Linked DNA regions of Homo sapiens: regions 1, 2, 3, 5 and 6 are each reported to be linked to region 4. Evidence: microRNA targets listed by miRTarBase, many of them from high-throughput screens and not tested one by one. Region 4 holds a microRNA gene; each other region holds the end of a gene's coding sequence.

Region 1 (5,073 bases), not on the chromosome of region 4:
GGGTGTCTCAGTGACGTCACTGGGGGTATAAAAGGGCCTGGGTGGCGGGCGCCTGGGCAGAGCGTCCTAGCAGTGTCACTGCGTGGGTTGGTTTGTGTAGAGAGGCGTGAGCGAGCCCGTTGTCCGGAGTGCACCTGCTGCCTGTTCTGTCCCTCCCGGGAGCCCCCGCCGCTGTCGCCGTCGAGTCGCCATGGAAGTGCAGAAAGAGGCACAGCGCATCATGACCCTGTCGGTGTGGAAGATGTATCACTCCCGCATGCAGCGCGGTGGCCTGCGGCTGCACCGGAGTCTGCAGCTGTCGCTGGTCATGCGCAGCGCCCGGGAGCTCTACCTCTCGGCCAAGGTGGAGGCCCTCGAGCCCGAGGTGTCGTTGCCGGCCGCCCTCCCCTCTGACCCTCGCCTGCACCCGCCCCGAGAAGCCGAGTCCACGGCCGAGACAGCGACCCCCGACGGTGAGCACCCGTTTCCGGAGCCAATGGACACGCAGGAGGCGCCGACAGCCGAGGAGACCTCCGCCTGCTGTGCCCCGCGCCCCGCCAAAGTCAGCCGCAAACGACGCAGCAGCAGCCTGAGCGACGGCGGGGACGCTGGACTGGTCCCGAGCAAGAAAGCCCGTCTGGAAGAAAAGGAAGAAGAGGAGGGAGCGTCATCCGAAGTCGCCGATCGCCTGCAGCCCCCTCCGGCGCAAGCGGAGGGCGCCTTTCCCAACCTGGCCCGCGTCCTGCAGAGGCGCTTCTCCGGCCTCCTGAACTGCAGCCCCGCGGCCCCTCCGACGGCGCCGCCCGCGTGCGAGGCAAAGCCCGCTTGCCGCCCGGCGGACAGCATGCTCAACGTGCTCGTGCGGGCCGTGGTGGCCTTCTGAGGACCCCGAGCGGCGCTGCCGGAGCCCAGAGCGCGCGTCGAACCGTCGGCCCGAGGGCGCAGACCTGAGGCGAGGCCACCCCCCTCCATCCTGGGGGAAGCGCCCGCGAAAACCGTGGAGAGAAGCCGCCGCCCGGGCTGCTGAGAGGCCCGGAGAGGGACTCTGTCCCCGGGGAGCCATCGCCTTCAGTGTGCAGGGACGGCACCGAGGAGTCTGAGCCGGGGGCGCGGGCGCCTTCCGCAGAGACCTGCGCCCACAGGTGCTGTCTTAGTGGACTGGGACGTGAACCTTTCGCTCTCCTTCTGGACTGGGAGAAGGGAGGCTTGGGTGTTGTGTTTTTTGTTTTGTTTGTTTGTTTGTTTTTAAAGATCTCCTCAGGGTCGGACTTCATTTTGTACTGTGGGCTGTGCTGGCCCTTTCAAGGTTTTTCAAGAGTTGGTTTTGCGTTTCCAACCTCGGAGAATTCCAGGCACTCCCCTTCCCCCTCCGCTGACATACTTGTATAAGCGGTCATCGTTGCGTCATGGGGCAGGCGTGGGGAGCTTCCTGTCGCCTTGCGTGGGTGTGGGGCCTGGGAGGAGGTCCTGGGGCGTGCACCCGCCCTGGGCAGTGGGGAGGAGAGTGGCCTGAGTTACTTCACCCCCGCGTGCTGCTGGTTAATGTCCCGCGTCTCTGCACCTTCGGGTGGGAGCGGGGACTGATCTACTTTCACATTCTCAAGTTTTTCTCATCTGCATTAGAGGTGCCCAGTAGGTTCCCAGGTTCCAGCGTGCCCCTCCCTCAGACACACGGACACAATCAGCCGAGAAGTTCCTGGTCTGAATCACGAGAATGTGGAGGGGTGGGGGGTGTCAGTGGAAAGGCATAAGGCTGAGCTGAGACCAGTTGCTGGTGAAACTGGGCCAATCTGGGGAGGGGAACATCCTTGCCAGGGAGTTTCTGAGGGTCTGCTTTGTTTACCTTTCGTGCGGTGGATTCTTTTTAACTCCGTCTACCTGGCGTTTTGTTAGAAATGTCAGATAGGAAAATAAAAACCATTTGAGTAAAAAAGCCGGTGCTGTCTGGTTTTCTGCTGTGGTGGGGGAGGGGCGGGGTTAAAGCGTCAGGGGCTGGCAGCCGCTCGCTGGGGCCCCAAGAACCGGTCTGACCGGTTACCACGTGGGCGAGAGAGGGTTGGGCCCCCTTTTCCTTGCCCGGGCATTCCCTAACTGGTGGAGCCCCGCCTCCCCCAGATTTGGGGGTTCCCTTGAAATTGTCCTACAACTCCGGGACAGGGAGATCGGGGCTTTCTGAGTTGAGACAATAGTGCTAAACACACTGCCCCAAGCGGAGCTGGGGATCGATTGCACGCACTTTGAAGCCTTGAAAGGTGGTAGATCTCGCCCCCACCCCCTAGACCAAACTGAATCAGCTGTGGCCGGGGCCCTACAGTATCAGGTGGAGCTGAGCGGGTGAGCTTTGAAGGGCTCTTTAGTCCCCAGTTCCCGTATCTTCCTCGAGGAATCGTTGTGTGTCTCAGGCAGGGACGTGCAGCCTCAGTTTCCTCATCTGTGAAATGGGCCTCTAAGCAGCTTCTCCACCCGGCATTAGGTTTTTAAAAATGCCCATTAGAGCCCTAGTTATTTTCTTGGGTCACTCCCCAGCTCTAGAATAACCACCCCGAAACGAGAAAGCCCTTTCAATATACCCCACGTAGGTTTAAGAGTGGGGTTGTGGGCGTTGCCCCAGGGCGAAGGGAGGGGGCCTGTCGGGAAGACAAAGGAGTCGCAGGTGCGGGGAGTGGTGGCGGCGGCAGGCGCCGGGAAAGCGCTCGCCCCGCCCCGCCGACGGCTGGCTCTGCCGCCGCAGGCTTCCCATGACCCCAGGGGAACTGACCCCGTGGCCACAGGGTAGAAGGAGGGGCAAGCCGGCCTCAGAACGTCTGCTGGTGGAATCTGGGAGCTTTGGCTCCCCTCCCGCCCAACCCACACCCCCTTTCCTCTCCTGTGTGGATTGTGAAGGAGAGCTTCTCACCGTTCTCCAGCCAAGCTCGCCCCCACGGCTGCCTGATTCCTTCCTGGGAACACGTGGGGGGACTTTTAAAAGGCGCCACCTACTCCGAGTCCTGACCCACCCAACTCTCCCAGGGGACGTGGGGGCACTGGAGCCCCACACCGCAGGCGGTAGCTCAATGCACCCGCGTCGGAGTTCCTCCCCCGCGAGCGTGGCAAGGCTCAGGGAAGTCCCGGGCCCCTGGGGAGGGGGCCTTGCCGCGCATCCTGTCGCAGGAACCGCCGGGCCCTTCCTTCCGCGGGAAGCGGCTTGGCCGACCCCCGCCCCCGCCCGGGCCTCTTGGGGGTTTCCGGTGCCCGGCCACCGTGGGGCTGGGGACTGAAAGTGATGGGACTGAAGATGGGGCTGGAACAAACACACTACAGACACATCCCCTTAAGACACACCCATCCCCAAGACCCCACTGGACCCATCAGAAAAGGCAGCATTGAACCTTGTCACAGCAAATAACATTGGTGAGGCCTGGACTAATTGATTGGACAATGGCTGTGAAAACTAAAAAGGTCACCCATCCTGTGACCAGCAGGTTCCAGCAGGGAACCCCAAGCCTGCTGCAGGAGACTCCAGAAAGGTGTTTGCTGCTGGCTTGTACTAAATTGGCACAAACTGCAAACAGCACAGCCTACATGCCCATCCTCCCAGATGGGTCCTCCCCAGAGGATAAAAGGCCGGAGCCAGACAGAACTACACACACAGGCCACACAGATAATTCGGTACCAGAAACATGATGCTGAGTGACAAAGGCCAGCTGCAGAAGTCAGGTAAGAAGCACATATTCTGGGCCGGGCATGGTGGCTCATGCCTGTAATCCCAGCACTTTGGAAGGCTGAGGTGGGCAGCTCACCTGAGGTCAGGAGTTCGAGACCAGCCTGATCAACATGGTGAAACCCCATCTCTACTAAAAATACAAAAATTAGCTAGGCAAGGTGGCAGGCGCCTGTAATCCCAGCTATCCGAAGGCTGAGGCAGGAGAATCACTTGAACTCAGGAGGCAGAGGTTGCAGTGAGCCGAGATGGTGTCACTGCACTCCAGCCTGGGCTACAGAGGAAGACTCTGTCTCAAAAAAAGAAGAAGAAGAAGAAGAAGAAGAACATATTCTGGAGGGAGGGAAACAACCAGGTCTACTTTCGTTTTCTTGCTATGCATCCTTGAGTGAGTCACTTGACCTCTCTGGGCCTGTTTCCCCAACCGTATACTGGGGACAATAATAGTCCCTGCCTTTTAGGTTTGTTGTAAGGATTGAGATTACACATGTAATCCTTACAACAAACCTAGCAGAGTGCTGGCACGTAGAAAATGCTAAATGTGCTGGGTGCCATGGTTCATGCCTGTAACCCCAAAAATTTAGGAGGCTGAGGTGGGAGGATCACTTGAGGCCAAGAGTTTTCAGTGCAATCATGGCTCAGTGTAGCCATGTAGCCTCGAACTCCCAGACTCAAGCAATCCTCCTACCTCAGCCTCCCAAGCAGGTTGGACCACAGGCTCAGGCACCATGCACAGCTAATTTCTTTTTTTTTTCTTTCTTTCTCTTTTTCTTTCTTTTCTTTCTTCCTTCCTTCTTTCCTTTTTCTTTCTTTCTTTTCTTTCCCTCCCTCCTTCCCTTCCTTTCTTCCTTTCTTTCCTTTCTTTCTTTCAACTAGAGTCTCTCTATCACCCAGGCTGGAGTGCAGTGGCTTGATTACAGTTCACTGCAGCCTCGAGCTCCTGGGCTCAGGCAATCCTCCCACCTCAGCCTCTGGAGTAGCTGGGACTACGCCACCACACCCAGCTAATTTTTCTTTTTTTTCTTCTTCTCTCTCTTTTCTTCCTTGTCTCTTTCTTTTCTTTTCTTTTTTGTTTTTGACAGAGTCTCGCTCTGTTGCCAGGCTGGAATACAGTGGTGCAATCTCGGCTCACTGCAACCCTGGCCTCCCGGATTCAAGCAGTTCCCCTGCCTCAGCCTCCGAAGTAGCTGGGACTACAGGCGCACACCACGACACCTGGCTAATTTTTTTTTTCCCACCGGTTGTCAAATGACCCTTTATTGAAATATTTTTCTTTGTGCTTCTTAACTAGCTGGGCATTTCACAGCACCACTGTGGGTTTTTCTGGTTTTTTGGGGTTTTTTTTTTTGAGTCGGAGTCTTGCTCTGTCGCTCAGGCTGGAGTTCAGTGGCGCG
Region 2 (5,064 bases), not on the chromosome of region 4:
GGTGTATGAGAGCCGTGAATTTTGGACGCTGGCGCGCTGCGCTGTGAATGGGTGTTTGAGAGCCTTGAGTTCTGGATGCTAGCGCGCTGCGCTGTCAATGGATGAATGAGAGCCGTGAGTTCTGGATGCTGGCGCGCTGCGCTGTGAATGGGTGTTTGAGAGCCTTGAGTTCTGGATGCTGGCGCGCTGCGCTGTCAGTGGATGAATGAGAGACGTGAGTTCTGGATGCTAGCGCCCTGCGCTGTCAATGGATGAATGAGAGCCGTGAGTTCTGGATGCTGGCGCGCTGCGCTGTGAATGGGTGTTTGAGAGCCTTGAGTTCTGGATGCTGGCGCGCTGCGCTGTCAATGGATGAATGAGAGCCTTGAGTTCTGGATGCTGGCGCGCTGCGCTGTCAGTGGATGAATGAGAGACGTGAGTTCTGGATGCTGGCGCGCTGCGCTGTGAATGGGTGTATGAGAGCCTTGAGTTCTGGATGCTGGCGCGCTGCGCTGTGAATGGGTGTTTGAGAGCCTTGAGTTCTGGATGCTGGCGCGCTGCGCTGACAATGGATGAATGAGAGCCTTGAGTTCTGGATGCTGGCGCGCCGCGCTGTCAGTGGATGAATGAGAGACGTGAGTTCTGGACGCTGGTGCGCAGCGCTGTCAATGGATGAATGAAAGCCTTGAGTTCTGGATGCTGGCGCGCTGCGCTGTGAATGGGTGTTTGAGAGCCTTGAGTTCTGGATGCTGGCGTGCTGCGCTGTCAGTGGATGAATGAGAGACGTGAGTTCTGGACGCTGGCGCGCTGCGCTGTCAATGGATGAATGAGAGCCTTGAGTTCTGGATGCTGGCGCGCTGCGCTGTGAATGGGTGTTTGAGAGCCTTGAGTTCTGGATGCTGGCGTGCTGCGCTGTCAGTGGATGAATGAGAGACGTGAGTTCTGGACGCTGGCGCGCTGCGCTGTCAATGGATGAATGAAAGCCTTGAGTTCTGGATGCTGGCGCGCTGCGCTGTGAATGGGTGTATGAGAGCCTTGAGTTCTGGATGCTGGTGCGCTGCGCTGTCAATGGATGAATGAGAGCCGTGAGTTCTGGATGCTGGCGCGCTGCGCTGTGAATGGGTGTTTGAGAGCCTTGAGTTCTGGATGCTGGCGCGCTGCGCTGTCAGTGGATGAATGAGAGACGTGAGTTCTGGATGCTAGCGCGCTGCGCTGTCAATGGATGAATGAGAGCCGTGAGTTCTGGATGCTGGCGCGCTGCGCTGTGAATGGGTGTTTGAGAGCCTTGAGTTCTGGATGCTGGCGCGCTGCGCTGTCAATGGATGAATGAGAGCCTTGAGTTCTGGATGCTGGCGCGCTGCGCTGTCAGTGGATGAATGAGAGACGTGAGTTCTGGATGCTGGCGCGCTGCGCTGTGAATGGGTGTATGAGAGCCTTGAGTTCTGGATGCTGGCGCGCTGCGCTGTGAATGGGTGTTTGAGAGCCTTGAGTTCTGGATGCTGGCGCGCTGCGCTGACAATGGATGAATGAGAGCCTTGAGTTCTGGATGCTGGCGCGCTGCGCTGTGAATGGGTGTTTGAGAGCCTTGAGTTCTGGATGCTGGCGCGCTGCGCTGTGAATGGGTGTTTGAGAGCCTTGAGTTCTGGATGCTGGCGCGCTGCGCTGTCAATGGATGAATGAAAGCCTTGAGTTCTGGATGCTGGCGCGCTGCGCTGTGAATGGGTGTTTGAGAGCCTTGAGTTCTGGATGCTGGCGCGCCGCGCTGTCAGTGGATGAATGAGAGACGTGAGTTCTGGACGCTGGCGCGCTGCGCTGTCAATGGATGAATGAGAGCCTTGAGTTCTGGATGCTGGCGCGCTGCGCTGTGAATGGGTGTTTGAGAGCCTTGAGTTCTGGATGCTGGCGCGCTGCGCTGTCAGTGGATGAATGAGAGACGTGAGTTCTGGATGCTGGCGCGCTGCGCTGTCAATGGATGAATGAAAGCCTTGAGTTCTGGATGCTGGCGCGCTGCGCTGTGAATGGGTGTATGAGAGCCTTGAGTTCTGGATGCTGGTGCGCTGCGCTGTCAATGGATGAATGAGAGCCGTGAGTTCTGGATGCTGGCGCGCTGTGCTGTGAATGGGTGTTTGAGAGCCTTGAGTTCTGGATGCTGGCGCGCTGCGCTGTCAGTGGATGAATGAGAGCCGTGAGTTCTGGATGCTGGCGCGCTGCGCTGTGAATGGGTGTTTGAGAGCCTTGAGTTCTGGATGCTGGCGCGCTGCGCTGTCAATGGATGAATGAGAGCCGTGAATTCTGGACGCTGGCGCGCTGCGCTGTGAGTGGGTGTTTGAGAGCTGTGAGTTCTGGACGCTGATCTCACAGGCAGCACTCTATGGCTTTCTCATTGCCTGTGGTCATTTTCCATGGGACCTATCGGGTTTTGCGGATGGAAACCCACATCATGTGCAGAGCCCCCGGGCAGCGTTCCCTGCCAGGCCTGATCTGCCGGATCTCACCGGGAGTTCCCAGAGCTGCGAGGTCTCTGTGCCTGTCCCTGACACAGGCATGGGGTCCAGGACTGGGCTCCAGGATGGCAAGCAGAGAATGAGCCCCGGGGTGTCAGTGGGTGTTTGGCTGCGGTGCCCGAGGGCCTGGCAGGGCTCCTTTCCCTGCACCGTCCCTGCTGCTAGCTGCCAAGGACCGCAGCAGGGTGATAGGGCTCCAGCAGACGTGACCCCGCCTCCCCCGCTGCCCCCACCCTGTGTACTTAGGGAGGGACCCGCAGATGCTGTGTCCCTCATAGCCCAGGGCAGCCCTCCCACCCCGCTGTGGACGCCCTGGCACCAGGTACCACCCCTGCCCGGAGGGACTGGTAGGCATGGGGACACGGGGGCTATGGAGCAGGCACAGTCACTCAGGGACACCCATGCCTGGCCAGGAAGCCTGGGGCCAGGGGGCCGTGGGACCCCCCTAAAAGGCCTGGGCTTGGGGAAGATGGTGTCCCCAGCCCCGTGATGTTGGAGGAATTTTTCACCGGAGGGCTCTACATGTGAGTGGGGCAAACAGGGCGAGGAGGGCCTGTGTGTTTCTGGGACAGCGAGGGGAAGGCCTGACTCAGGCCAGGATCCAGGGGAGCCACCAGCACCCTCCACACACAGCCTCAGCCTGGCTGCCGCCTTGTCCCTCCCTGGAGGCCTCCCTCCCTCCTGCCCACTGCCCCCACAGCCACCAGACAGGACAGAACTCCTTAGCATGCTCTCATATTTAATTATAATTATAATATAATAGAACCACAGGGAAGGGGGATCCCTTGTCCCAGCCACTCAGGTGCCTGCTGGCCGCCTGGATGCTGGTGGCCCTGCCCCAGGAGTGGGGGTGCAGTGTGTGGATGTGAGGAGTGGATAGGCCACGGCGGGGGTACTAGGCCCCGGGGGAACGCCTGTACCTTCCCACCCAGGCCCTGGTGGGAGCCCGGCCAACCCCTTTAAATAATTTCAGGAATGGGTTCCAAGGAGAGCTCCCAGGGTGGGCACATGGGGGGCCCTAGGTGCCTGCACTTCTGCCCTCCCAACACCCAGGTGGCCACAGCTGGGAGGGGCCTGAGTCAACCCCAGCCCTGCCCTCCTGACCTTGGGACCGTAGGATGTCCCTCTCCCGAGTGGTGTGAGGGGCTGGGGTGGAATGCGGCGGCAGGAGGCCAGAGTGCTGGCTGGGCCTGAAAGGCCTCCAGCTCTGCCTGCCCGCTTACTGCCTCAGCTTCCCTGCCCCACAAAGGGCCTGAGGTGCTGCCTGGGCATGTGTAAAGGTGGAGGGGTTTCCTGCCCTGCCCACCACAGCCAGGAGCTCTTCTGACCTTCCCTGAAACTTCTCTAGGCCTGCAGGGAGCAGATAACTCCTGGGGAGTCCCCAGCCCCATGTACCTCCCACTCCTGTGCCCAGTCTTGGGCCCTGCGTCCAGGGCGTTTCGGGATGCCACTGCCAGGGGCACCTTGGCTGCTCCAAGGCCATCTCCAACCAGCCCCCAAGTTCAGGCAGGAGGCTCCGGGGCGTCAGGCAGGGCCACGGCGCCTTCAGCCCCGGGCCGCAGGCAGCAGCAGCAGCAGCAGCAGCAGCAGCAGAGATTCAGGGAGCTGGACGCAGGCAGCTCTGTGCTGGCAGGACCTGAAGCAGTGACTGCATCTGGCCCTCCCTGTAGGGGACGGTGACACCTGCTGCCTGGGCTCACTGTGGGCATTGAGACATGAGTCCTGTGGTGGGGCTGTGCCTGGTGCAGGTGCAGGCTGGAGCCCCGGTCGCCCCCAGGCAGCTCAGCCCCTGGACGGCCTGCAATGGCCTGCACCCTGCCTGCTTCTCCTGAGGAAATGCGCTGACCCGGGCTCATGGTGGAGGGTCTGCAGAACACTGGTGGCCAAGGAAGCCGGTCAGAGGGGCCAAGAGCAGTGTCCATCCTCAGGCCTCAGTGGCTGGGCACTCCGAGGGCCGTCAGCTGAGCCCCTGCGGGCGGGGGATGAGGTGCCCATTCCGCTAGGAAAGACAATGGTGGCATACTCCGTCTGCTCAGGGACACAGGGCACGGGGGGCTCCGGGGTCTTCTCTCGCCACTGGAAATCCAGCTCCCCATAGTCCACAGAGAACACAGGCACGGCTGAGGGGTCCTCCTTCTTTGAGGAGAAAGGGAGAGGGAGTCAGCCCCACGGCCCACCGCAGGAAGGAGGCCCGCGGCTCCACAGCCTGGCTGCAGTACCGGCACCGAACCTGGGCCCCCCACTATGAGCTGCTTACCCTGAGCTGTCCCACCACTGCCCTCTGTGTGATCTGGGGACACCACCCCTCCTCTCTGGCTCAATGTCCCCCTCTGAAATGTCCCTGGCATTCTTGCAGATTTAGGATTCCAAAATGTGACTTTTCAAGCTCTCCTGTCTCCAATGTAAGATAAGAAATGACCAAGCCCACCCCACGCCCTCGCAGGTGGGCACACGCATGGGCCGGGCACACCTGGAGACCGCAGGCAGGCACATATGTGGGCCGGGCACCCCCAGAGACCGCAGGCGGGCACACGCGTGGGCCAGGCACCCCTGGAGACCGCAGGCAGGCACACACATGGGC
Region 3 (5,072 bases), not on the chromosome of region 4:
AGTCTAAATGTGGGTAAGAGGTGTGGGTAACAGGTGTGGAAAAATGAAAACAGTTGATTGATTAGGGCAGTGGCATTGTGGATTATTTCTTGTCTTTCTCTTTTCTTTTTTCTTCTTTTCTTTTCTTTGAGATGGGATCTTGCTACATTGCCCAGGCTGGTCTCGAACTCCTGGGCTCAAGCTACCCTCCCACCTTGGCCTCCCAGAGTGCTAGGATTACAGGCATGAGCCACAACACATGGCCAATTATTTCTTTTCTGGTTTGATTTCCATTAATGCTGCTATATTTATGTAATAAACTAAAACTATAATAAAATGTTACTTTGGATAAGAACAGAAGGACAAAGAGAAAGTAAATGCCCTCTGAGGCCACGCTACTTTTAGGATATACGTGGAATTTGTCTGGCTTGATGTTGAAAACGTTCTGTGGTTTTATATTAAGGGAACCTTGTTTCTCCTCACAGATTGAAGCCTGCAATAAAGAAGCAGAGAAGATTGAGTCCCTTATCAACTCTGACAGCCCGACTTTGGCGTCCCATGTCCCTCTCTCTGCCCTCATCATTTCCCAGGTACAGGTCTCCAGCAGTGTGCCATCGGCCGGTGTCAGGGCCAGGCCTTCTTGCCACTCCCTCCTCCTTCCCCTCAGCTTGGGCCTTGCCTTGCACTTGCTCTGGACATATAACTGACTGCCCACGGAAAGTGCAGAATGCTCCTCCACCTCACTCTCCTGCCTTGAAAAAGACATTCAGGACTGCTGGTTTGTAGTTGAATATTGGCCAAGGAAAGGCACATGTCACCTCTATTCGCCACACAGTATTTTTTTTTTTAATCCGCCAATATTAGTAGGATTTTTGTTTTGTTTTTACAAATGTTAAAATGTGTTGTTCCAAATACTAATGAAAACAGAATGTCTCTTCCTGGTAGACCACTGCCATATGATTTACATTTCCTCACCATAAGGGTCCCCCACTCTAAAGCAAATTTATCGCTGGGAAATGAGATGACCACTTTTTAGAAAGATAATTCACTGTACTATCAGGTTCACAAACTTCATTTCAGAGTTCTTTTTGAAGTATTTAAGGTTCCCGTTGCATTTGTTTTGTTTACAGATAATTACCTACTCTGGCTAGAAGCTAGGGGTCCCAGTGAAGAGCCACTGCCATTAAAGAATATGAAACATAGATAAAACATCTTTGAAATTATGTAAATTATGTAAATTATCAGGCAAATTTGCATTAAATTACAGAAATTTAATTCAGAACCCCAACTACTGTGTTATGCAAAAGCAAGCTGATTAAATGACACTCATATAATTATATGTTGTAAGCAACAGGCTCACTGGTCACGGATTTGTGTCTGTGACTTTTGTGAAAGGGAGAAGTGACATTGCATCAAAGCATCTTGCATTATGCAATTTTTATATTAACCAGATATATATTCATCGGTATTCATCCAAGTTAAATGTAGAGTTTTTAAACATCAATCTTTAAACCAATTGCTGCTACTTATATAATTGCCAAAAAGTGAAATAATGTGTAGTTCATGTAAATAATACATTATATTTCTATTTTATTATGAAGAAGGTGAATAGCCATATTTGTAAAATGACAATCATGTGTGTTAACCCAGTGCTTTCCATTCGTGAAAACACATTTGCTTTTTGTGATATGCACAATGTAGATAAGTGTTCTGTCTGACTTTCTTTTTTGATATAGAAGTATAAAGAATTGTGGTTTATATATTTAAAAGTGTCAAGCTGAGTATTAAAATGTATGCATGTTGTCTAAGAAATTGAATACTTTGAATGTGTTTCACAGTTTGAAATAAGCTATTTGATGTAATACTTCTTGTGTGTATGCACATGAACTTAGATTTTACATGAAGTATTTTTTCAGTATTATATGTACCCTCTGAAATACATAGGGATATGCGTATTATACCAAAATGTTGCTGAAAAATGGGCACTTAAAGCTTTCAGAATATGTCAGTGCTGATGTAGCATGCTTGTTGCAATTGCCTTTTTTCTGTATAAATGTCTTTAATGCAATATACTGGAAAGCTTTTCTATTTTAATAAAAATAATTTTTATATGATCATGCATGCTTCTAAGCAATGTTGACATTCAAAAAGGAAACCACTGATCACCCTTAGGTGAGCTGTGTCCTTTGCTCGGGGATAAGAAGTCATGGAAATTAGCCGGGTATGGTGGCACATGTCTGTGGTCCCATCTACTTGGGAGGCTGAGGCTGGAGAATCGCTTGAACCTGGGAGGTGGAGGTTACAGTGAGCTGAGATCACACCACTGTACCCCAACCTGTCTCATACCTGAGACAGAGTGAGACCCTGTCTCAAAAAAAAAAAAAAGAAGTCATGGAGTGCTATTATCCCAAGCCAAGGGCCCTGGGAGAACAGGCCAGCTAGGACACAGTTGGTCAGACCAGAGGGCAGGCAGTGACAGAGAGTCAAATACAAAGACCCCAGCTTTCAGCCTTAAGGACAGAGAGAGCTTCAGGCCTTCCAAGACTGCATACTAGGCAGTTCTCCCCACTGTGCTGGTCCTGATGTTCCAGTTCCAGGGTACACCTGGGGCAGGGAGACCATGGGAATATGGAGATGGAGGGCTGCTGATGGGACCAGAGAAGTGGTACCAATCAGCTTAGGCTAAGTCCCCAAAACTTCAGTGGCTTACAACAGAGGCTTCTATTTTGTTCCCTTCACATGTCCATTGTGGGTCAGCTGCCACACCTGATACTATCTTCACTCCAGACCCATTCCAGCGTCCTCACAAAGGGCAGAAAAGAGACATAGAGGACCACAAGCTGGCCCTGAATTCTCTGCTTGGAAGTGATGCTGTCATTTCTTTCTACGTTTTACTAACCAAAGCAAGTCACATGGCCACTCCAGAGTTCAAAGGGTGGGGACATACAGTCCTCCCACGGTGTTTTGTGTGTGTTGGGGGAGGGACAGTAAGTATTTTGAATAACACTGTCTACCATAGACATCTTTTCTCATCAGGCTAGGACAATAGCCAGGACTGACAAGATTTTTTATTAGAGAAGTAGATGTTTCCAGCCTGGTCAACATAGCAAGAACCCATCTCAAAGAAAATGCAAGGCGTTTAATAGGACAGGTTGGAGAAGGTGATCAAATGGTACAGGCAACCTGCCATGGGAGGTGTGAGTTGGGGGAGGGAGCATCTAACAAGGGGGAAGACGCAAGCCCTCGAAAAGAGGGTTGGTTTGCACCAGGCCTGGAAGAAACCAGGAGACTTTGCCAGATGGCTTTGAGAAAGGCATTCTAAGTAGGAGGTACAGCTTGAGCAAAGGTGCAGAAACGACAGAGTCCAGGTCCGTTCCAGGGGTAGAACAGCAGGGCTGACATGTTGTGAGGGGCGTGGTGTGGGGAAGTATAAGGCAGATCCGATGTGCCCAGCTTGAATGCCAGGCCACAGTGGCATCCTAAGCCTCTGCCCTTGCCCTTCCAGCTACACTGACCAGCCTGGATAGCTCTAGCCTGCAAAGGATTGTGTGCCCCAAACTTCAGTGCCACGAGACCTTCAAGACCATCCACTGATCTTGTTACTAGGCAGTGCTTCCCTCTGTCCTGTGAGCACCCTGGACTCTCCTGAGGAAATAATAACTGAGCAGGCTGGGGGCCAGGGTTCCCTTAGGCCTGGTCCCCACCCTTAGAGTTCAGCCAGGGTCTCTTTCAGCTCCACTGTGGGAGGAAACTTAAACCCACCAGGAACACTGATCGTCACTGAAGAAACTGCACTTTCCTTCGTTTGATTCAATGCTTCTCTTTCAGCCTTGGGCTGATGGGAGTCAGGCCCACACACTCCCACAGAGGGTGCTCTAATTCTCAGAGGGACAGGAGGCCCCGCTGCAGGGGCCTTTCCTTCCCTGCCTCCCAGCTGCAGAAGAGGCTTGAGTTGTGCACTTTGCAAGCTGAGAGAAAGTGAAGGCAGAGGCGTCATTCCCAGGGATGAGCCAGTCCTTCCAGCAGTCCAGCAATCTTGGGGCTGGAGGGCAGATTTCCACGGTGCACACAGAGAGAAACCAAGAGTACAGGGACCAAGCTGTGGTTACACAGGGAGTCAGGGTGAAGCCACGGCCAGAGGCCAGGTCCAGGCTTTCCCTGGCACAAGGCAGCCAGGCAGGATTTGTACTTCTCAGAAATGGAACTGGCCATAAAGGAGGTTGCCATGAAGGTAGATGCCAGAAGGTGAGCAGAGTGAAACAGTTCCAAGGCCAGGTGAGCCTGGGTGGGTCTGAGCAAACAGGTTCAAGGAGCATCAGGAATCATAAAAAGTAACTGACACAGTTCGCCAGCTCACTTTCTAGGGCAGTTTAGGGAGTGCTTTTCACCATGTTGTCTCCCGGCCCAAAGCAAAACGCCTCACACAGAGAGCAAATGCCAAGTCTAAGGTTGAGTTTCATTCTAGAGCCCAGCCTCAGGGCATTAGGCTGATGGTGGAGAGGGTAGGGAAGGAAGCCTCACAGGGTGAACACTCTGTCCCCTGGCTCCACCCACTTTTCCATTATTCCAAAATGAAGTTCACTGTATTGTTTTTTCCTTGTAAAAGTTACGTGTGCACCTTCCCCCAAGTACTTGGAAATATAAATAAAGGAAAAAAAATCCCATACCTTCCTCTCCCTGCCTCTACAAATAAGTGCAGAATCCTTCTAGAGCCTTCTCTGTACATATCTATCTCTCTCTGTAATCAGGGCAAGGTACCTCCTCTGTCTGCAATGGGGAGGAGGTGGTTACCTCACTGCCCTGTGCGGGGAAATTGAGGGAAACGGTTTCATATTTGGGATGTTGTCTACTGGGCGGTACATCCTTGCCTAAAGGTTCATAGGTGGAAGCCCTATCTTGGCCAACACCCACCAGGTAATCAGGGGGTGGGTCTTTTCCTAAAGACCACCTCCTCTGTCTTCTCCAGACCAATCTCCCACTGAACTCTACTGCAAATGCAACCAGTTGCTTTGCCAAACAGAAGTGTAACCACTTAGGCAGGGCGCGATGGCTCATGCCTGTAATCCCAGCACTTTGGGAGGCTGAGGCAGGCA
Region 4 (5,073 bases):
TTAATTTCACATTGTCTCTCCCGAATTAAAACTTTAAAGGTTGTTTAGTTTTCCCCGTAGGGACTTGACATTGTGGAAGTTTGGCTAGAATGCGCCGAGAGAAGGTACATCGTGTGTTTGGGGTGTGGGGGACGAAGGCATATGCAAAATTAAAAGACAAAACGTTGTAGAGTATGAACAGAGGAAGAGGCGTATTCTTTGGCTCTTAAATCATTTAGCCAAACACATTGCAGTTCAGAAGGGGGTGGGGCTATGGCAACTCGAAAGTATCGATTCTTTGTCTATTGTATCAGTGAATGACCCTCTCCTGAAGTGACAAGACGCCCCTTTGTAATCTCTTTTCGTAAGTAAATTTCAGTCTAAGGGGAAATATGTAAACTAGGGGATCGAGGTGGCTTTTTAGGGGTGTAACTCGTTGTACTATCACTGGGAGAGATGAAAGGGGTTAGGGTGAAAGGTATAAATGAATTTGATTCCAAGAGCAATCTGGAAGGGACCTTCGCCTTTGACACCGATGCTGTTTCGAATGAACTTTTGTTTTTCTAAGTAGTCAACTAAGGAAATGTTAAATTAGGCATGACTTTAACTTCTGACATGATGGCTCGTATATTTGTGTGGAACAAAATGTTGGGAGAAAGTTGTGGAGTTTTACATGATAATTGTACATTTGCTAAACATGTTTTTTTTTTCTTTTTAAGGGCAGTCAACGACATTTTTCTCCATTAATCCCAAAGTCAGTGTAAAAGTTGTTTGTAAATATCATTGCCAAAACAAGATGGAATGTAGAGATACTTGATTGTCGCAATTTAGGGAATGGGGTTATTGTTACTAATGACTTTTTTTTTTTACCATGACATAGTGTATTTGTTACCACTGGATCTCAGTCTGGATGTTATAAATTCGATACTTAATCTTATTAAATACTCTGCACATTTTATTAACTAATAAATAGGACACTTAACATTCATTGTACTGGTTTTGAAAAACCGACTTAATTTGTAAGTGTAACAAGATACTTACAGTTGGATAATTTAAATGTCTATTACTTGTGCTGAAATGTATTTAACTTTCAAAACCATTACAGTTAGTGCTGATTTTGTTGTTTTAACTTTTAGGTTTGTGATTGAGGATTTCAGAGTGGGTTTTTTTTTTAATGCTTAATTGAATATTGTATTCAAACAAAAAGAGGGCATGCATGTGACTTGTTGCTAATATGTGTCCATTTTAAAAAGGAAAAAGTGGTATCTAATGAGTTAATCATTAAGGAGTATGCGCAGTGCCGGCCATTTCAGGACATGAAAGTTTCTGTGGAGCTGCTTGAAACAGGAAGGAGCGACTTGACATCAAGTATTTAAACTTTTTGATTTATGTTTTGATAGATGACATTGATAGGTATAAATTATAAATAAGTTTGAGTAACCAGTTTAATATGTAAACTGGTATTTCATCTACAGAAAGTTCTCTGTCATTGTTTGGAGCTCTTTAAAATAACTCAGCTGGGGTGTTTAAGAATAAAAACACTAGCAGTGAGTTAGGACATCTAATGCTTTTAAAGATAGATGTATATGTCGCAACGATAGTGTAAGAATCAGCTGAAGCTACCGGTGAGGTTTTGGTTATTTTCTTTCAGTCATCTGAGTCCATTTCCAATAAAGGTTGTTTTTTTGTTTCGTTTTTTGTTTTTTTTTAATGGGGACAATGAATGAGACTTGTAATATGCAGCAGGAAGAAGTTTCACCAAGACTTTGAAACTGGCAAGAATGATCCAGATGTCCAATTGCCTCTACTTAACCTTATTCGTCTACCTTCAGAAGTAATTAGATTCTCTTCCACACTAATTCGTATCCCCCATCGCTCTGCTTTTCACCCACTACGTTGTTCCAAGATTCATCCTCAGGGGAAAAAATTGAGAGCCACACTTTCGGCTCCACCTGCAGCTCCTGGAAATCAAATGGTGAAGTTATAAGAAGTACCTTAACTTGGAGTGAAGTGGCCTAGTCATAAGTTTTGCCCTATTCCTTGCCAGGGGGTGGGGCGGGGCTTCCTTCAGTCATCCAGTCTTTATTCACCCGCAGGTACCCCCAGATCGATCCCCCTTCATTGACTCCGAGGGGATACAGCAGCAATTCATGTTTTGAAGTGTTCTAAATGGTTCAAAACGTGAGGCGCTGCTATACCCCCTCGTGGGGAAGGTAGAAGGTGGGGTCTGCCGGACGCGTGTTCCTGCCACCAGGTGCCCGCTCCCCGCGAGGCCGGCTCAGGAGCAGGTAGGTGGGCGGGGGCTCGCGTCTCTGTTTCCGGCGGGTCCTCGCCCTTGTCCACGCAGCAGGGCTGTAGTCCGGGGAGGGCAGTATTCCTGGCTAGGCTGGGGCGCATAGGCGGTGCGAGTCGAGGAGAGACGCGGTGCCCGCGCTCAGCCGTGCCCTAGCAGCGGGAACAGTTCTGCAGTGAGCGATCGGTGCTCTGGGGTATTGTTTCCGCTGCCAGGGTAAGTCTGGGACTGCCGTTCGGGCCTACCCAGCAGGTAAGTCTTAGGCCATCGCCTGCGGTGTCGGCCCCGGGAGCAGCGAGACCCAAGATTGCATCAAACGTTTGCCCCGTCTCTGCATATGTGACTGGACGTGAATGATGCTTCATTTTGGCACCCCCTTTCCCTGCTCAGGTAGAATGTAAACAATTGAAAAAAATCCCTTCCCAATCAGAATACCACCCACAGGACAACGAAGAAAACCTATCTTCAGTCCCCACCCACGAAATGCTGGGGGGTGGGGAGGACTGGAAAAGGAGTAAGGGGAGAGGAAGGGTGAGCAGCTGCAAGAAGTCTTTACACCTCTCTGCGGTTCCTGGTAAACGCGCTCATGTCCTGGGTATGGAAGGGACTTAAGAATTCAGGAAAGATCAAAATAACGGGCCTCTTCCCCACTCCCTCGCCCTCCCTTCCCCGCTGCTGGGGGGTTAGGGAGGCTCCGTGGAGCTCCAGCACTCTAGAAGGATCGGGTGAGGCGCGAGGCCTTGCGGGCGGGTGAACCCAAGGTGGGGTGGAAGGCTCCAACCCGCCCAATCTGAGCCCGAGGCCTGCTGAGAAGCATGGGGGCCTTGGGATAGTTCCAGAATGAGGATGTGCGTTTCTAGCTGCTTTGCGCCCTCCTCCCCCAAAAATCTGCTACCACAATTCCAACCCGGCGGCACGCCCCCAAGACTCCTTTGTCGCCCCAGGGGCGGGACCTGAGCTGTCGATTTCAGGAGCCCTTCGTGACTTCAAAAGTCCTGGGCACTGTTGCTCATGAGTGCTGCACAACTGTCGCCCTCTAAAGCCACCTCCATCCCTCACTGGGCTGGCCTCCTGAGCCTTCGGTGAGGAAACGGGGTTCCGAGTTGCCCGCCTGAGAGCTTAACAGTCTGACTAGAAAAGGGCTAATTCGCTTTCTGTGCAAATCTCTTGAGCTAATTATTTAATCTGAAACATGGACAGGTAAAGGACCATTGGCGGGCGTGGGGAGGGAGGTGTGGAATCTTTCCCACACTTTTTGTCACCTTAAAGAAAAAAAAAAGACACCCAAACTCCTCTGGTCTGAATGGGCTGCCTGGAACTGGGCTTCCCGGGGCCAGGAGTGGGCCCCTAGAAGTTTCCCAGTTTGGGGTGGGGCCGGGGTTCCGAAGTCTAGAGCTGGGAGTCGGGTTCAGCGGCCCGAGACGCTGGCTCTCCCAGACTCCCTTGCGCCGGGGCAGTGCGCGGGGGCGGCTCGGGTCCCTCCCGGGCCGGCGGGGACCCTCAGGCTCCCGGGGCGCCGCCCACCAGCCCGACCCGGCGGCCTAGAAATCCCCATTCTGCTCCCGCCTCGCCCCGGCCGGCCAGCGCAGGGCCCCTCAGGCCCGCAATCTCCAGGCTCAAACGGCGAACAGGTCCCCGCATCCGCCTGCCTTTGCACTTGGGGGTGGGAGAGCCACCTTGTGACGCCCCTTCTGCCTCTCACCAGCTTCCCCCTTTCTCCCCGTCCTGTACGGTTCCCCCTGGAGCCAGAAGGAAGCCCGGTGCCAGCCAGCCTTCCTGAAAGACCAAGCCCGCGCCATCCGGCTTCCTCCAGTGGACGCCTGCAGGACCCAGGTGAGACACGGAACCGGTTGGGGACGCGAGCCAGGGATCCTGACCGGTTGGGGGCGGCGAGCAAGGGATCCTGACTTGGGGGCGTTGCCTCCCGGAATCCAAGCGGCCTTTTGCCCGGGTCTCCCGAGATGCATCGAAATTGAGCTCGTCCACACAGCCCCCTGACTGCGTGATGCCCTTTTCTGACTTAAAACATTCCTTGTACCTTTATTTACACGATCCAAGTTGCAGTGTGCCTAGATTTTCCTCCAAGGACAAAAATGTGAATAAAGCAATATTTTAGCCAAACATTTCTGTGTCAATTAAGAAGATTGCAATTCGTTCCAGACTATAAATTCTCTTTAACAACTCCCTAAGGTATTCTTTTAAATTGTTTTTCAGCGTTGCTAAATGTGCATCATAATGTGTGGGAGACTTGTATAAAGTGAATCAATTTATACTCAGCTGATTAATTGACCCGATGTTACCACCTCCAAGGAGGCACCTTTCCACTATTTTCTCATTTTTTCCCCAACACATGTTATTTGTTAGTGAGGAAGCTGCGTGCACGTGGCATTGTATAAAGTTTATTAGACAGACGTGGCCCTTAAACTAGGAAGAGCTTAGTCTAACTCTAAATCTAAAATTCGACATTTCGGTAAGTTGTGAGACAAGATACCCAGGTTGTTTGATAAACCAGAATTGAACATAATTTTTTAAAAATTTAAATCACAGGAATGTTTTTCTTGAAGGCATCCAGCATCTCCAGTTAGCAGTACTGATTTTTTTTCCCCCCAACAAAGGAACACTACATCAACACTGTTGGCGGGGACCTGGACACAGAAGACTCCTGTTTCAAGAAAATACAATCATCTCTCAAAGGCTGTAATTTATATGCATTTTAAAACTCTAGGCATTGAAAACCACCCAAGTGTCCCAAATAGAAGGGTAATATATAATCAATCACTCAGTGTAATATTATACATCCT
Region 5 (5,073 bases), not on the chromosome of region 4:
TTATTTTATATTCTGATTTTTAAATGGGTTATGTTTAAGTCTAACCTATACATACCTATACATGGGATTTTAAGGAAGACTAGTAAGAATATGAGTCAATATTTTTTTTTTAATGTTATTTAGGGTTTAGAGTCTCCCACTATAGAAGAACAAGTTGATCAAACAATTGATGATGAAACAATACTTATCGTTCCTTCACCACATGGCTTTATCCAGGCATCTGATGTTATAGATACTGAATCTGTCTTGCCTTTGACAACACTAACAGGTACTGTAATATAATACTTACTATGTGCCTGATAAATTTTAGATGGAAAAAAACAGACATTTAATTAACTTGTTTCAGTCTTTCTTGATCCAATAAGCTACTAGTCCTGTTGAGTTCTACACTGTGGTAGAATACCTTAAATTCTTGACATGGATTAGAGAATAAATATATACATTTAAGACTAACTTGAAACTCATTACAGATCCCATACTCCAACATCATCAGGAAGAATCAAATATCATTGGATCATCCTTGGGCAGTCCTGTTTCAGAAGATTCAAAGGATGTCGAAGATTTGGTAAACTGTCATTAGAATAATTCTTAGAAATAGGCAGTTCAAGCAAAGAAGGCACACTGTTAATTACAACCTCTTCAAAGAAATAGGAGCAACCCCCAAGAGGCTTAATTTACCAATTTAAATAGCCACAGTCCTTAAGCCACACACATTGTTGCTGCTATGACTTTTTACCTCCTTTAAACACATCATCTGAGGTTGAGTTTTATGACAGTATGTAGTTGAGTGGAGGCTGGGAGTTTTAAGCATAAATCCCTGTTTAGTGTTACATGGGAATAAGGAATTTCATTCACTTCAGCCACTAAGAAAAGTTTAGAATCACGAAAGCTTAACTGCTGTGGTTTAAAGTACAGTTTCTCTAAAGATCAGACATGGCACTGTCTCCTCTCAAGCCTGGTTGTAGTTCAGATGAGTCTTTTCAACATGGTCTTCAACATGGTCTAGAGCTTACCAGTGATCTTCTGATCTTCAAGAAGACTAAGTTTGAGACTTGACCAGCATACAAGTATAGAGACCTAGGAGGTGGTCTTGTGGTGGTACATTTGGTTAACCCATTGCTGGCAGTGGGAGCTGATTTAGGCAGGGTAAACAGGAAAGCATTAAAAGTTAAAATTCACTACAGGTTTTTTGTTACTTTTAAAGGGAATATGGATAAGCATAGTAACAAAACCCACCAGAATCTAAGCAGTTTTCACCCCCTCAGAAACCACTGTCATTAGTTTACAAAGTTAGCACTTTGAAGTAAAACTAAATGAGGAAGGAAGTAATGTTACCTATCCTTGATACCATGACCATTTATTAGATGTTTTGCTATATAAATTACCGAGAGAATAGTTTGTCATCCACTTAGTGTGTTAGCTGGTGGGGTACAATATAACCTCTCATCTCAGGCTATTTTAAAAAAACAATATTTGCTTCTATAACAAAAGGAAACAAATCTAAGAATCATTCCTGTACTACAGAAGGGTTAAGGCAAAGGTAGCCTTTTGGGCTTTTTAATGAATATGACCCCTATAGAAAAGTCAAGAAAAAAAAACCCTTGTATAAATTATTTTATTTATTATTGTAATTAGATCTTCACAAAGTTGTCTTTTCACTGTGTTTTGTCAACGTGAAATTAAATTGTAGTTATAAGCAAAAGTTGGTTGCCTAGGGAACAATTGTATATTCAGTTTAACAGAAATAAAAGAATATTTGTCTTAAGATGCAAGATTTGTTTTTACATAGCCTTTTGCCATACAATTATAAAAATTTCATTTCAAAAGTGAAATTTTTTTGTGCTGTTTTAGCTTTAAGGGTTGGAATGTTTAGGTGCAACATCAGCTCCTTAAAGAAAAAGCAAAGTGATCTAGGATATGTCTCCCTTGCAAGAGGGAATTAACATTTACAATTAACATGAAAATCATGTATCAGACTTCTGCAGGAGATTCTTCAGCATACCTTATCCAAAAATTACTCACTGTCCTAATGTATCATTTTGAAGAGTCCTGGTAAGTACTTCTCCTTGGCAGCCTCACCTTCCCACATCATGGAAGTACAGGTTTGCACATATACACAACATGATGATAGAAAATATGATATAGTAAATTAGCTTTCTAAATTTCGGTTCTAAGTCTCCTTGTCGATACCAGTAGATCTAAAAGAAGAATTAAAGTTTATAAATTAAAATTTGAAATATAACATTTTCTCTACCAATTTCAAATTTCATTAGTATTTGTTTATTCCCCTAAATGAGACAGACATTCTCCATATTCTGAGGTCTCTACATTCCTGAGATCAGTACAGCCAGAATTTAATTCTTACTCTGAGTTTCCACATCCAAGATCATACTTATTCCTACTTTCTCAGTTTACTTTCCTCTATATTCACACCTGTATACTCCACCAGTCATCTGGCAAGCTATCCAAGAACATATACCTGGGCATACTACTTAACAGGAAAGGAAGACAACATTTAGACTCATGATTCATACAGTTGGTTCAGACCGTAAAATAGGGCTTCCATAATATATTTGGATTAAACTAGTTCATTGTCTGTTAGTCACTTTAGGCTTCAAGCTAGGGGAACAGGAAAGCTCCCAAAGTGGGATGGGCTAGTTCTTCTTCGGGTCATGGGAGTATATAGCAGGATCAGTGAATGAGAACACTTGGAGGTGTCTCCTGGTTTAATTAATTTTAACTCAGATAAGCAAATTACTATTGTTTTTTCTTTTGATTCTGCCTCTAAAGGAACATGAAACAATGTAGCCAACTAATGAATGAACACTGAGGAGCCACCACCATCTTTGTTTCTTCACCATAAAAGAAACATTTGCAGTAAATCAAACATTTTTACAACAACTGCAGCTTTAGATTTCCCAGGAGGTTTTGGTGTTAATACCTCCATTTTGGGAAACAAACATGTAGATTAAACTAATTTTGTAATAATTAGAATTAAATCCAGAGTGCTCTATCTCTTCCCTTAGCAGTAACTGGCATTTCCCAAAGACTGTTGGCCCTTACGTAGTCCTTGAGTGAAGATGAATTAAGTAAATTAAAATCTTTGGCCACCTACGTCTTTCCACTAATTTTTTTTTTTTTTTTTTTTTTTTTTTTAAGCTATCAAGGGAGTGGAATTTCTCTTTGGGGTTACAACTTTGGGATTTAGGAGAAAAGGAGAAGACTCAGATTTTATTGAGAATTCTAACATACTTTTAGGGGGAGGATGAGGATATAATTAAGAGATACCCTTTTGTATAGACCCAAGGCTGAAAATTTTTGTCCTGTGCATTGCAACTTAAACCCTCAAGAACACTGTTTAAATTCTCAACAGTACTTACAAGTATGCAGGCAGTAATACTACTCAAAGAGATGCAGACAGCAAAGAATATATTCAACGGTTTTGGAGGTAGTTGAGGGAAAACAAAAGCACTTATCAGCGTTACCTGTATGAAGAGAAATTATGTAAGGCCTTAACAGTAATTCCAAGACTTGGTAATTACCAACTGGAGTCTAGGCAACAGTACTACAAAATGCTTCATGTTATAAAATTACATCTGCCACCAAGTTTGCTTTCTAGAATGTTAATACAGTAATTATAAATATGTTCGAGTTATTTTAGTACTTCTTTTCTAAACTTTCCCTTACTTATGAAAGGAGAGAAAACATCAGTAATACTAGCTGATGCCAAAATAACTTCATTAACTAAACCTCACTCCCAGGATTAATGATTCTGCTGGTAAAAGTTCTAGCCATTTTGTTATTTTAAATATTTCTAGCAAAATGAATATAATCAAAGCTGGTTTTGCTATAACATTATGAAACACACTGAAAGACTTCTAATGTTGTATAGTTCTGTTTCTAACAGATGCAGCATTATATGCAATCTTTTCATTAAGAAGCCATGGAAAAAAATTCTCTTAAATTTAATGTGCCAGAAAAATGTCAAACTATGGAAAATACAGCTTTTAAAAATTTTATTGTAATAGCTCCCAGATGTATACTGTATACAGGATGTATACAGTACAACTACTATACACTGTGACCAAATCTTTTAAAACTTGACCAAAGGGTAATGGATATGTTCTTCAGGAACAAAATAGAAATGGGGAATTATGGTAGATGACAGAAGGAAGTGGCTACTAGCCACTGACATTTTTACAAATTTACTAGGCAAAACATGGTAAACTCAATTATCTTAAAACGAAGTTGTCTGACTTGTACCATTTCACATATTCAACCTGGGGGTGGGGCAGAATTAAATTAGCTACTCCAATTAGCAACTGCAATTTTGTGGTAATAAAATTAAAAGCACTTATTTAGCTTTTTTTGGAAAGTTAACCATAATTGATAAAGTTTTCAAAACTGGCTAAGAGCCTGGGTGAGGCACAAAATGAGGATACTTACTAGAATCAATAAGGATGTTAAGCTGCCAACAACTAAATTGATGATTCGATCCTGAAAGAGAAAAGAATTTTTAAGCCATATGACTTGGATCCATGTTACCTTCAGTATAGTACAATGCAAGGCATTTGGATGGTTTACTATAAAGAAACCCAAGATCCAGTCCTCTGAGCTTTACACATAAAACTACCAGACAAAGCAAAGTGTACTGAACCATAAGAGTGGAAAATGTACTTTGGGAAAATGGCCAACTGGGGAAGGTTTCTTGAAGGGACAGAACATTTATACTAGAGTCTTGATTGGGTAGTATCAAATGGGTAAGGGAGGCTTACAAATAATGCATGTGCTGCTGAGGATAGCATAAGCCAAAGGAGAAGGACAGGCACTGCAGGAATGGCCAGGCCAGAGCATTGGTTAAAGGTATCAGGAACCGGACTAGATGTAGAGTACCATGATGTGTCTGGAACTATATTTGTAATACAGCTTAGGTATCCTTGTCTAGTCTAAAAATAGATGCTACTGTTAAAAGGGATGGGTCCTAGAGTGCCAAGGCTTGGCACTTGCAATCTTAAGAGACCATCCAGTCCAGTAGTTTTTCCAAGTTATTTAATAGTGAAGGGCTTTAGTATA
Region 6 (5,073 bases), not on the chromosome of region 4:
TGGCCTCTGACTCAGGTAATTAACTAATTTTTTAAATATTGACAGATTACCTTAATCTCCCTCAATATCACCCTTTTTCCATTGAAAAAGTAGGCTACTATAATATAATAGCAAACCACCCTTCTTACCTAATAGGAATGATGAAAAGGTAATGAATTTAAAAGCACATAGAATTTTTATTGCATACAAATCCAAGGTAATTGTTAATAGTTTAGTGGTAATGGTCAACTATAATTCTGAGAAAAATTTTATGTTGATAAAGGTAATTACCAAGTAGATTTTTATTGGTAAATGGTAGTTTGGAGAGCTGAGTTTAAAAACCTATCTCCAAAGGTCTTACTTGGCAATGACAACTTAAATATATCAAATTTCTGATTGAATGTTTAAATACTCTTACATTAAATACTTTTACACTAAGTATGTAAATTTTCTATAAGGTAGAAGATTTTTAAAGGTAATAGTGAAAATGAAATAATAGCATGCATCCAGTCCCATCATTGATATGTTCCTTTTTTTTTTTTTTTTGCAGAGCTGATAATAAACCATGCTTAAGTTTTAGTGAACCTGAAAATGCTGTATCAGAGATAGAAGTAGCAGAAGTGGCATATGATGCTGAAGAAGACTAATGTATCACAAGCAGTTCCCTCCATTTAGACTATTCAAAAATTTAGAAGAGTGGCAAATACTATTTTAAAAGAAGAACCAAGAACTGTAAAACATATAGAAAAGAGCAAGAATGCACATGTATAAAGTTTACATAAAGAAGTTTTTTTAAGTTATTGAGATAGGAAATATATTCACTGCTGCTTTTAATTGTATTTTATCCAATTACATTTAATACACTAAAAAAAATCTTGTTGGAATTCTGTTATCAAGGCCCACATTCTTAAATACTGTGCATAAATTATTATGGTGTTTTGCCTATATATTGCTCCAAACTACTGTGTATATATGTATGTGTGTTAAATCACCAATTATATTAATCAAATGGAAATTAATTGCATGTTACTATCTGGGTGATATATTCTTCTTTATATCTCTGACATGACATATTTTCATTAATAGTTTAAATCAGTGACCATCATAATAAAGATAAAATTTAGTTGAGTTTTTAATGTTTACATGTTTACATCTCTAAATAAAATTTGCTTATTTGAAATGTTAATGCTCTTTAGAAAAATGACTTTCTAGTACCAAAGGAAAACTACTTGAAAGAGCTGTAATCATATAGCTAAAGTGATAAGATAGCCTTGATTTTAAAAGCTGATTCATTAATATCAAAATACTTTAATAAGTGTCACAGTTATTAATATGTTACATTTGTTTAGTTTCCACGTAATCTTTATCTCTACCTAGATTTAGTGAGTTTGCCTCTTTCAGAATACTACCTCCTTTTGTTAAGGCATATTCTTTCGAAAATATAGATTCTAAATAAATAGGGGCTTATACAAAAAAGAAAATAAAAAGCCATATATACTGCAAAGTTCCTAACTGGCTTGACTCCTGACATTGCATTTTTATTTCTATTTGTGTGAAGATGTTGTTATACTGTATTATGGCTGATTTTCTTTTTAATATATTTAGCCAAGTGATGCACTTTATGATAATTAAACTCTTTTGTGCCAAGTTTAATTGGTGGATTTTTTTAGTAAGTAGAGTTAGGAGAAAGAATTATGTAGTGCCTTTACTATTTCACTTTCTACAAAAGTCTCCTAGGGTCTTTGAGTCAGCTTTATGAAAAAATGTTTGTTTATTTCAGCTTTGTGTACAGTCATTAAAAGTGCCTTGTTTCATTTTTATAGGATGAAGTTATTTATTTTCTATTTTCACTGTTTTGCATATTGCTGTTAATAAGCATTGTAATCATGCTGGCATTTTGCAATCCCAGTCGGTATGCTTTCTAAAAACTGAGGGAAACTTACTGGGGAAATAGAATAACAATCTCCATTTTTTTCTTTACTATCTAAAAGTTTATCGGTATCTTGATGTATATATATATTAAGGTGTGGCTGTTTAAAATTCTAATGACATATATCAACACATTCAATGGCTGTTGTTAACCTTTGAAGTAAAAAGGAGATCACTTTTTACCAAATAACCAAAAATTTTTAGTCTGTCAAAGTGCACAGGTATGTTCTCAGAACATTTTTCACAATGTGTATCAGAAATATGTTTGCTATCCTTAGAGACAGAAATGAATATAATAAATTGATCTGCTTATTTATTAAAATTATTATTCTAGACTTACAAAAGGCTTAAAAAGAACAATCATTTAATCAGTACCATTCTGTATCTTATATAACAGATCTTTGCCAAATTCTAGATATTATAGTGTTGCCTGTCTGTTCTAAAGCGAACCAGCCACTTTTTCAATCTGGCTTTTTGGAAGATTGTATTTAAAGTTCTTCAAGGATGAAGAAAAAAATCTGTTAATTAGGTAAACCACTATTATTTATATTTATAATTTACTTTTTTTTACTTTTATAATGCATTTTACTCCCAGTATTATGTTCATTTAATAAATTATTTTTTCACTACAACAGTAGCTGTGTTGTTCATATGTTGAATACCATTTTCCCCCTCCATTTTCTATATTCTCCCTATCTTTTACAATTATTGTAAATTGAATTATATTTAAGTGCTGAATTTCACAGATGTAGAATGAGTCTGATTTTCTTTTTAGGTTTACACTTTATATTGCTGATCATTTTTTGAAAGTCTTTGTGAATAGGTGCAATGCACTTTAACATAACCTATACTAATAATTCTAAAAATTGAATGTAACTGAAATAACATTTTTGTGGATAATCTTTTAACCTTTTAGAAATAAGTTTACATATAGTTAGTACAACCATAAAACAGCATTTTAAAATGTATCTACTACATCGAGATTAGCCATTTACAGCACATTTATTTAGAAAACCATGCTTAGATAAATTATCTATGTAGTCTAGTTCAGTCTGTGATATTAAAAGGGAACAGTGGCTTTAGATATAAAAATAATTTGGTTTTGAAATGGATTTTATTACTTATAGGAACACATGAGTTTGGGGATTATGATAAAACAAGTCTGTTTTCCCAACTAGCAGAAGAATCTAAATTTTATCCTCTAGGAAATCTTCAGAGAGCTACATATTTGATCCACATTTTGGCTCTTCATAGAATTACTGTTACTGCATTATGCTTTGTTTCTATGCTGTTGGCTCCTAATAGCAAACACAGTCATCAAAACATATATTTTCAATACATGTGTTTTTAAGGCTAATGGCTACTATTAAATATATCACATAGTGTACCTTTTATGAAGACCCATAGGAGAAACTTCTCTTGGGTCTTGATCTCAGCAAAACATGTGCTTCTCCTAAACAGTTGAGTTTCAGGGGAGGGTTGTGTGGTTTTTGTTTTGTTTGTTTGTTTGTTTTGGGACAAAGTCGCTCTGTCACCCAGGCTGGAGTGCAGTGGCGCAATTTCGGCTCACTGCAGCCTCCGCCTCCCGGGTTCAAGCAATTCTGTCTCAGCCTCCCGAGTCGCTGGGACTACAGGTGCACATCACCACACCAGGCTAATTTTTGTATTTTTAATAGAGACAGGCTTTCACCATATTGGTCAGGCTAGTCTTAAACTCCTGACCTCAGGTGATCCACCCGCCTCAGCCTCCTAAAGTGCTGGGATTACAGGTGTGAGCCATTGTGACCAGCCTAATTTGTTTTTCTCTCTTTTTTCTATTTAGTGGTTTTCCCTAATTTTATTTTTATTATACTTTAAGATCTGGGATACACGTGCAGAACATCCAGGTTTGTTACATAGGTATACACGTGCCATGGTGGTTTGCTGCACCCATCAACCCGTCATCTACATTAGGTATTTCTCCTAATGCTATCCCTCCGCTAGCCTCCCACCCCCTGACAGGCCCCAGTGTGTCATGTTCCACTCCCTGTGTCCATGTGTTCTCATTGTTCAACTCCCACTTATGAGTGAGAACATGCAGTGTTTGGTTTTCTGTTCCTGTGTTAGTTTGCTGAGAATTATGGTTTCCAGCTTCATCCATGTCCCTGCAAAGAACATGAACTCATCCCTTTTTTATGGCTGCATAGTATTCCATGGTGTATATGTGCCACGTTTTCTTTATCCAGTCTATCCTTGATGGGCATTTGGGATTCGTTTTCATCTTAAAGAGTCTAATGCTCTCTTTGTTGCTCCTCTTTGTCTTTTGGGCAGCTCTAGGCCAAATTGTAGTTCACTTGTATGGTTATGCTTTTCTGTTGTAATCATGACTTTATTTTTTATCTTCTTCAATTTTTTTTCCTATTTAAGTCGTTCTATTAGAACATACGTATTTTGGGAGCCAGGTGCGGTGGCTCATGCCTGTAATCCCAACACTTTGGGAGGCCGAGCTGGGTGGATTGCTTGAGCTCAGGAGACCAGCTTGGGTAGCATGCATGGAGAAACCCCGTCCCTACAAAAAACTAGCCAGATGTTGTGGCCTGTGCCTGTAGTCCCAGCTCCTGAGGTGGAAGAATCGCCTGAGCACCAGAGGTGAGGCTGCAGTGAGCTGTGACTGCACCATTGCCCTCCAGCCCAGGCATCAGAGTGAGATACTATTTAAAAACAAAAAACAAAAAAAAAGCCTTGAAAGAAGATCACTGAATGTGGAATGCACTTAGAAATGCTAGCTAATGGTAAGCTATAGGTGGATTTTTGACTAGAGCACAGTATGAAGTCATGATCATGGTTTTCAGCCTCAAATTAGAACAGACCTCACTTGTCACTTGTAAATAATTTACAGAATATTAGATCAGTGTCATCTCCACACAAAATAATAAGCAAAGCAACCAATGTATACTCAATAATGTTTTATTATAATAGATATGCTGAGAGTAAGTATAGACCTTAAATAATGTTTGCAGCCTAGCTAACTGTAATCAAAGACATTAGCAGCAGTCAAATAGTGGCTAAGGTGTGAAATGTAAAGCCCCACATTGCGGTTATTAAACCTATAACTCTGGAGGACTCTAGAATTAGCTGATCTGCTAGTCCACGCTTCTATAATAGTTCCTTTGGAGAGCAGACTGT

Evidence for each region. Region 4 holds the annotated microRNA hsa-miR-424-5p (CAGCAGCAAUUCAUGUUUUGAA, at 2,118-2,139, shown strand). A microRNA usually pairs through its seed, bases 2 to 8, with sites in the 3' UTR of a target mRNA and lowers its output. Matches are read on the target gene's strand: a 7mer-m8 pairs with bases 2 to 8, a 7mer-A1 pairs with bases 2 to 7 and ends in A, and an 8mer does both.
Region 1: the mRNA of IER2 is a reported target of hsa-miR-424-5p. Seed matches in the 3' UTR shown: 7mer-m8 at 1,510-1,516.
Region 2: the mRNA of PDCD1 is a reported target of hsa-miR-424-5p. Seed matches in the 3' UTR shown: 7mer-m8 at 4,069-4,075, 7mer-m8 at 4,066-4,072, 7mer-m8 at 4,063-4,069, 7mer-m8 at 4,060-4,066, 7mer-m8 at 4,057-4,063, 7mer-m8 at 4,054-4,060 and 2 more.
Region 3: the mRNA of RECK is a reported target of hsa-miR-424-5p. Seed matches in the 3' UTR shown: 8mer at 1,497-1,504.
Region 5: the mRNA of DMTF1 is a reported target of hsa-miR-424-5p. Seed matches in the 3' UTR shown: 8mer at 718-725.
Region 6: miRTarBase lists SNX16 as a target of hsa-miR-424-5p. Seed matches in the 3' UTR shown: 7mer-m8 at 802-808.

Annotation. Positions count from the first base shown.
Region 1 is chr19:13,152,997-13,158,069 of GRCh38, forward strand. It overlaps IER2 (immediate early response 2), which reads left to right. Exons shown (of 2, transcript NM_004907.3): 2 at 1-1,915. The coding sequence starts at 191. The coding sequence ends at 862. It also overlaps the pseudogene RPL12P42. Among named protein-coding and RNA genes, the nearest start is that of IER2, 5.1 kb to the left of the region's middle. RefSeq lists enhancers at 1-159, 146-1,029, 1,090-1,179, 3,690-3,839, 4,140-4,229 and 1 more and silencers at 810-919, 2,530-2,849, 3,060-3,329.
Region 2 is chr2:241,846,679-241,851,742 of GRCh38, forward strand. PDCD1 (programmed cell death 1) reads right to left here. Exons shown (of 5, transcript NM_005018.3): 5 at 3,206-4,619. The coding sequence ends at 4,380. Among named protein-coding and RNA genes, the nearest start is that of PDCD1, 9.7 kb to the right of the region's middle.
Region 3 is chr9:36,122,360-36,127,431 of GRCh38, forward strand. It overlaps RECK (reversion inducing cysteine rich protein with kazal motifs), which reads left to right. Exons shown (of 21, transcript NM_021111.3): 21 at 465-2,096. The coding sequence ends at 686. Among named protein-coding and RNA genes, the nearest start is that of GLIPR2, 12 kb to the right of the region's middle.
Region 4 is chrX:134,543,746-134,548,818 of GRCh38, reverse strand. It overlaps MIR424 (microRNA 424), which reads left to right and starts at 2,108; the gene lies at 2,108-2,205. MIR503HG (MIR503 host gene) reads left to right here and starts at 2,189. Exons shown (of 3, transcript NR_024607.1): 1 at 2,189-2,267; 2 at 4,022-4,105; 3 at 4,820-5,073. MIR503 (microRNA 503) reads left to right here and starts at 2,421; the gene lies at 2,421-2,491.
Region 5 is chr7:87,194,561-87,199,633 of GRCh38, forward strand. It overlaps DMTF1 (cyclin D binding myb like transcription factor 1), which reads left to right. Exons shown (of 18, transcript NM_001142327.2): 17 at 124-268; 18 at 471-1,765. The coding sequence ends at 580. TMEM243 (transmembrane protein 243) reads right to left here. Exons shown (of 4, transcript NM_024315.4): 2 at 4,447-4,497; 3 at 3,381-3,485; 4 at 1,600-2,198. The coding sequence ends at 2,076. It overlaps LOC105375384 (a long non-coding RNA gene), which reads left to right and starts at 3,158. Exons shown (of 2, transcript XR_927722.3): 1 at 3,158-5,073.
Region 6 is chr8:81,797,050-81,802,122 of GRCh38, reverse strand. SNX16 (sorting nexin 16) reads left to right here. Exons shown (of 8, transcript NM_152836.3): 8 at 530-2,540. The coding sequence ends at 626. Among named protein-coding and RNA genes, the nearest start is that of SNX16, 43 kb to the left of the region's middle.